Homo sapiens: one gene and its partner. The protein of the gene in region 1 purifies or fractionates together with the protein of each later gene. This does not show direct contact. Each region holds a gene or a part of one and is shown on either strand. Other genes may lie near its edges.

Region 1 (3,500 bases):
CAACGACTTGTTTGTAGGTAAAACCTTCTGTGCTCACACCATTGATATTTGCAAGGACATCACCTGGGAGATGCCAAGAAAAATGAGTGTTATGTTGGTTAGTTAAATAATCCCTCCTGACATGCAAATGAAACAAGCAGCTCCAAGTCTTAAAAACATAAAGGAGCCAAGAAAACTCAAAGCAACAAATACATCCTGACCTTCACTCTCAAAACATTTTATTTTCTTTCCATTTAAATGATTCCTAACATGAGCAAAAATTTAAGTTACCAGCTTGCAGGCCAGCACAGTGAGCTGGGCTGTCCTCCTGTATTTTGCATATCAAAGTGAACATTTCCGAGGAGCAGGCATTCTGATTCTGGGGCCTGTAAGACTGTAAAAATTAAGATGATATATAGTTACTATTTAACAACCTCAACATCTATTTGCCAAAATTTAAAATGATGTCAATTATCATTAAGCAGTATAATAGGTAAGTTCAAAGGACAAAGGATTTCCACTATAAACTAAATCAAGGTATCAATTTTGCAATTCTACCAGACAATCTGTAGCCAACTCCATTCATAAAGACATCTGTCATGAGAAAGAAAGTGAAATGAGAGTGGCTCAAGATTTTATATTTTCAAGCCCAAGATATCACCTGATGCTATCACGATTTATTTTTAAAAATTGAGTTTCTCATTTCCCAATGGGATAAAACAACGATGGCCAAGTGCAATGAGAAAAATCCCTAAGTGGTTCTCCCAAGCTAAAACACTCATTATAGGAGTATGAAATTGTACACATGCAGCAAGGAGACATGCCAACAATGATTATTTTAAATCAGAGTTCTGCACATAATGACAATCTGCCCTGCATTTATTCAAAAGTACTATAATTGACTCAATTACCTTCATTTCTGAGCACCCTCTGGTATGCCTGTCCTGAATCCTCACCGGTTCATTAGTCACCCAACTAAATTAGAAAAAGTTAAGCTTCAACTCTTGCCTCAATTAGGCACAAGTAGTTTGGTGGTGGTGGGTTTTTTTATTTTTAATTATACCAAAACACTGAATAAATGTTTGCTAGATATAGTGTCCCAATGACCTATAACAAATATAATTTTCTTTTTTTCACACATTTAAATTATGAAGTCTAGTTCCACTTAGAAGCAAAATCAGTGTTCTGAGTAGAGTACGTCTTTTAAACATCTGATTCCTAAAATTAAGCTACATTAAAGTAGTACTTCCTTGTGAAAAAATTGATGTCTGATGTTCATTCTTTCTTATTCAATAATCCCTGAGGCATCACAAGTCAGCCACATGCAAGCAACTTCTAGAAACTTGGGTCTGTTCACCTCTAAAGGACTTCTATCTAATCTATAAGGCACTTAGAATCCCCATATCTTAAAGGTAGAAGGGACTTTAAAAGATCATGCACTATGTTCCCATCTATGTCAGAAACTTCATTGACAGCTTTCCTGCCAGGGGTCTTCTCAGTATAGCCTAGACCCTTCTGGAGATGAAAGACTGATCTAGTTCATGTGGTACATGAATAAAATATACAACTGACACTCCTTTGGGAAACCACTGTTCTAACAATTCTCATTAGCAGTGAGACTCTACCCTCCATTCCCAGAGATCAAAGTAAGTACAGTGCAGTAGAAACATGTTGATTTATGTAGCTGGCACCTCCATATATGTTCACATTGGGTGTAAAATATGGTAGTTAGAAATAGAAAAAAACAGAAACCCCAAAGCTACAGAAAGTATTAATTGGATGCTTTTTTCTCTTACCCAGTCTTCTAGCTCCCATTAAGGGATCAGTGACACAATGATCACCTGCATTTCTTAGAGACACAAAGATCTCATTGTCCTTTCTCATGCCCAGTGACATTCATTCTAACACCTGTCATTTGTGGATCTTCTATTGGTAAGGCACATCACTAGGTACATTGCATGTATTATTTCATTTAAAACTCCTAAGGACCCCATAAGGCATTAGGAGGATATGAATTCAGGTGTGCATGAGTCCAAAGTCTGCATTCCTATTGGGCTGCACGATTCTGATAAGCAGCATAAAACTAGCTCCCATGGAGAACCATGGATCTGGTCTCTTCCAAAGTGTCATTCCTCTAGTAGGCCACATCCCAAACATGTACTCACACTGCATGCACAATATGGGTACATGAGGTTCTATCTGATTTTCAAAAAGTTCCCAGAAGCATGTCTCCTATTTGTTAACTGCTGCAAATCTGATGAGTACTAGGGAATAGATTATGGTGTGTATTTGACAATGGAGAGCATATACCAGAGGGAATTTACAGGAGTGTGGGTTCCTGCATCACTGAGATAACACCTACATGCTGCCATTTAGAGGTGCCATTAGTTCATGTTGATCTACAAAAGTTCAGTGGTGTTGTGGCCTGACATAGTTTTGACTCTTGCTCCACGGAGAATAAGTGTTTATGGTATGGGAGAAAAACTTAAGAAAGTAGTGACATTATTATGGCAGTATAAGAAAAATAAAGAAAGGTGAGTAGTCGTTTATCCAGTTTTCAGTAGCCACTGCTGCACATCCTTGAGGATAATTTTCCTTTAAAAAGAAGCAGTGACAAAAAGCAGTGTCTCTACAACAGAATAGGGAGTAGTTCATATGACCGGGGAGTAAGAGGGAGCACTATGCTTCTAAAACCTATAGATTTCACCAGTTACTGTGGTGAATTACAGATTCCTCCAAATTTAAAAGTACAGGAGTTAGGAAAGTAGAAGTGATCCTCTTTTCAAAGTGCCTTCTCTGTCTTCATTGCAGCTAAAGTTCCATTTTGTTTCTTTACTCATAAAACATGTTTTTCTTAGCAGTTTCCTGTTCCTAATCTTAAAATAAACACTGACTTTCCAATTGTGGGGCTGATATCACACCAGAGTTTTCTGAAAGCAGCAGTAAAGCTAAGATCTAAAATCTGATATAGAGTGTAAGAATATGATTATGCAAAACACATCCAAAAGACATGCAAACGTACTATGGAAAAAAAAAACAGAAATGCTTAAGCTACTACTGTTGCACTTAATTGGGTTAGACTTCATTTGACCTACCTCACCCATTTTACAAATGTGCTCATGAAAAAGCAGACAGCTAATAAGCAATGAAATTCTTAGGCAATTATGCTGAAACTTATAAAGACTTAAAAATTTCCTACAGCATGAGGCAATCTGCAAGTAGAGCCAAATGTTCTCAAGTGTTTCAAATAACAATTATAAAGCATTGTCATTAGGAAAAAAAGCTACAAATTGCTCATTATGTACAATATGAACTCTAGTTGCAAAACATACCAGGAGCTATCCATGAATATATGCATTCTATATACACAGATGTATAGTCTTTCGAGTGTCTCTTGAATGCCAAAGTAAATACTTAAAATCTGATACACAGTATAACAATATGATTATACAAAACACATGCAAATATATCAAGTACACATCTGTAAAATGTATTTCACTCTCTTATCTAAGACCTAGCTG
Region 2 (3,446 bases), on another chromosome or scaffold:
GGGAGGAAGGGCTGGGGCCTGGACTTCTGGGTCTGAGGGAGGAGGGGCCGGGGTCCCCAACTCCTGGGTCTGAGGGAAGAAGGGGCTGGGCCTGGACTCCTGGGTCTGAGGGAGGAGTGGTTAGTTATCTAGGGCTGACATAACAAAGTACCTCAAAATTAGTGGCTTAAATCACAAAAACTGAAGGTCTCCCAGTGCTGGAGGTCAGAAGTCTGAGATGAGGGTGTCAGCCCTGGCTGCTCCTGAGGCTGTGAGGGAGGATGAGTCCCCGGTCTCTGGCTTCTGAGGGTGTGCCGGCAGCTTTGGTTTTCCTCGGTTTGTAGAGGCGTCACCCCAATCTCTGCCTTCACCTCCACATGGTGTCATTTCTGTGTGTCTGGGTCTCTGTACAAACTTTTATAAGACACACATCCTATTGGATTAGGGCCCACATGAATGACCTCATCTGAACTAATTATATCTGCAATGACCTTATTTCCTAATCAGATCACATTCTGAGATGCTGGGGGTTAGGATTTTAATATAAAGTTTTTTGTGGGGGTGGGGGAGACACAATTTGATCCGTGCTGAGTCCATTTTGTGTTGCTCTGACAGAAGACCTGAGGCTGGGTCTTTATAAAGGAAGAGGTTGATTTGGCTCAGATTCTGATGGCTGGAAGGTTCAAGACTGGGCAGGTGCACTCACTGAGGACCTCCCTCATCCCTGAGGCTGCTGCTGCTTCTGGGGGAGGGCAGAAGGATGCAGCTGTGTGCACAGAGATCACATGGTGCTGAAGGAAGCAAGGGAGAGAAAACCAAATTCCCAAATTCCCAAGGGTGAGCACTCACTCACCCCTTAAGGCAGGCATTAATCTATCCATGAGGACTCCACCTCCAAGACCACACAGCTCCTTATGAGGCCCCACATCCCAACACCTGCCACACTGGGGCTCGAATCTCAACATGAATTTTAGTGAGGACAAACGATATCCAAACCATTGCCACCCAAAAGAAGTGGGCTGAGGCCTGGCGCGGTGGCTCACACCTGTAATCCCAGCACTTTGGGAGGCTGAGACAGATGGATCGCCTGAGGTCAGGAGTTCGAGACCAGCTTGGCCAATATGGTGAAACCCCGTCTCTACTAAAAATACAAAAATTAGCTGGGTACGGTGGCTCACATCTGTAATCCCAGCTACTCGGGAAGCTGAGGCAGGGGAATCGCTTGCACCTGGGAGGTGGAGGTTGCAGTAAGCCGAGATGGCGCCATTGCACTCCAGTCTAGGGCACAAAGTGAGACTCCCTCTCAAAAACAAAACAAAACAAAACAAAAAACAAAAAAAAAAACCTACAAAAAAAATCAGAAGCGTGCTGGGAGCTTGGGGGTCCTGGGCGAGGAGGGAGCCGGACGCAAAATCCTCAGGTCCTGGGGGAAGATGGACTGTGGGCAATGCTGAAGGTCAGTGTGACGTGATGCAGCCTGGCTGGAATGTTCCACAGGCATCTCCAGCTTAATTTGGTCAAAACGGAATGCCTGATTTCCCCTTAAATACTCCCTTTCGACCACCTCAGTCATGGCACCGTCATTCACCAGCTGCGGCGGCTCTCAGCAAGTCCTTTTGGCTCCTCTTTCAAGACTCCTAGCGTGGCCCAACGTTCTCCACCTCCACAGCCACGCCATCCTGCACCGCACAGCTTCCTCTCACCTCCCCGCTCGCCTCCAAATTATTCTCCCTGAAGCAGCCAGGGGCCCCTCCTGCAACCTCAATCCAAACACGTCAGGCCCCTGCCTCCTGCCCTTGCACGGCTTCCATCTGCTAAGAATCCAGCCAGAGGCCCTCCTGGGGCGGCCCAGGCCCCACGCGACCGGCCGCCTGCCTCTGCCCTCCCCTCCCGCCGCACTCCCCTCTTCGCCACCAGCGGGCTCCGCGCCTCTTCCTGCCTCTGCCTGCCACGGAGCCGGCCGCCCTGCATGCAGTTCATCCGGGGAGGCGGCAGGAAAGGGTGACATAGTGGCGGGACCCGCTGTTTACCCTGGGACCTCATCTCCCACGACCTTCTTGGGTCGATGACTCCGTTTCCCTGGCACCTGTGGGAAAGAGAAGTGGGGAATTCTATTTTCTCATTTGGAACTCCATTTCCCACCAGCCCCCGGGGCCGCGGCGGTCAAAGCCTCCTCTACCCTCCACAAAAGTACGGGATCTGACTAAGAAAAAGAAGACAAACGCCGCCACGGAGTCTCGGGAAACTGCGACGCCCGGAAAAACCTCGGGTCTGGGTCACCGTGGCTTTGGCGCCGCACAGCCTGCCGATAACTGTAGTCCACCTTCCCGCGGAGGGGCGCAGGGTACCCCCACCGCGGGGGCCTTCAGGCCGGCAGGTGCCTGTGGCCAAGGGCGGGACAGGGATCAAAGCCCGAAATTCCGAAGCGCCGCATCCCATCGGAGAGCTCAAAAGCGAACACAGCGGGCAGGAGGGACTACAACTCGCGGCACGCCTCGGGGCCACAGGCGCCTCTCCCACCCGCGTCCCGGTCCCTGCTGGGACTTGTAGTTTGTTAACTAAAGAGCGCCTCAGCTTCAAAGGCGGGCATGGGAGAGTGACATGGGACCTCCCAATCCGCCATCGCACCCTGCTCGGGATCCACGAGCCCTTGTTCTTTGGGGACACCACACATACCCCAACTGGAGGGCAAAAGGTCACAGACCTTAGCCCAGGATTCAGGGGTACCCCACATGCCAAGACTTCACCTTCATAGAGGCGATCCTCGAATTTCTTTGGCTGTCAAGAATCCCAGGAAAGACGTTCAGAACGCAGGTCCTCAGCCCTATCCTTGACACAAAATGTCCTCCAAAGGAGGCTGATCCTTTGAGAACAGACAAGCCTGGCTCTGGCACTGGCCCACAGTCCTGCCCTCTTAGCCCGATCTAAGGCTGCCCAGCCCTTCAGGACATCCCATCAGCAAGGCCCTTGCAGGACATGGGCCACCTCCCCACTCATCCTTCCCTGACCCTCCCTGAGGTGGTCGCATGTTCTTCCAGCTCCAGGTTGTCCTCAAAGCCCTGGCCCAGCTCACAACCTCACCAGCTTCATCTCCTGCCCCTCAAAGACCTCAAGCCCCATGAAAGCAACGATGGGAACTAGCTGATGGCTGTAGCGTAACTGGCTGATGGCTGTCAAGTAACTTCTAGAATGAATGCTAGACCTTGACCCTGAATCCCTGCATTCTAAACTCTGTCCCCGGCCAATTCCAACTCCAGACTCCCACCATATTAACCTTCTCCCTTTACTCCACTCCTGCTGGGCTCGGGGTGAAACCAGAACAGACCCACCGGGACAGCCCAGGCAGCACCCAGAGACAGGCGGGTCCAGGCCCCTGTCCAGGGAAACAGGCTGGCTCCACGGAGCACCTCGACTCTGTCAACCCCAAGAAATGAGGGGGTCAGCAGGCCAAGTGGTTAAATAATTAA

The links. The genes of interacting proteins can lie anywhere in the genome.
Region 2: the proteins of CYTIP (region 1) and CYTH2 purify together in Homo sapiens (affinity purification with mass spectrometry; 3 studies listed by BioGRID and IntAct, with this or other methods). This does not show direct contact.

What each region holds. Positions count from the first base shown.
Region 1 is NC_000002.12:157,430,590-157,434,089, forward strand, and holds part of CYTIP (cytohesin-interacting protein), read right to left. Parts: intron 374-3,500; coding exon 271-373; intron 64-270; coding exon 1-63. UniProt on the Homo sapiens protein: By its binding to cytohesin-1 (CYTH1), it modifies activation of ARFs by CYTH1 and its precise function may be to sequester CYTH1 in the cytoplasm.
Region 2 is NC_000019.10:48,479,369-48,482,814, reverse strand, and holds the end of CYTH2 (cytohesin-2), read right to left. Parts: 3' UTR 501-3,446; downstream 1-500. UniProt on the Homo sapiens protein: Acts as a guanine-nucleotide exchange factor (GEF). Promotes guanine-nucleotide exchange on ARF1, ARF3 and ARF6. Activates ARF factors through replacement of GDP with GTP.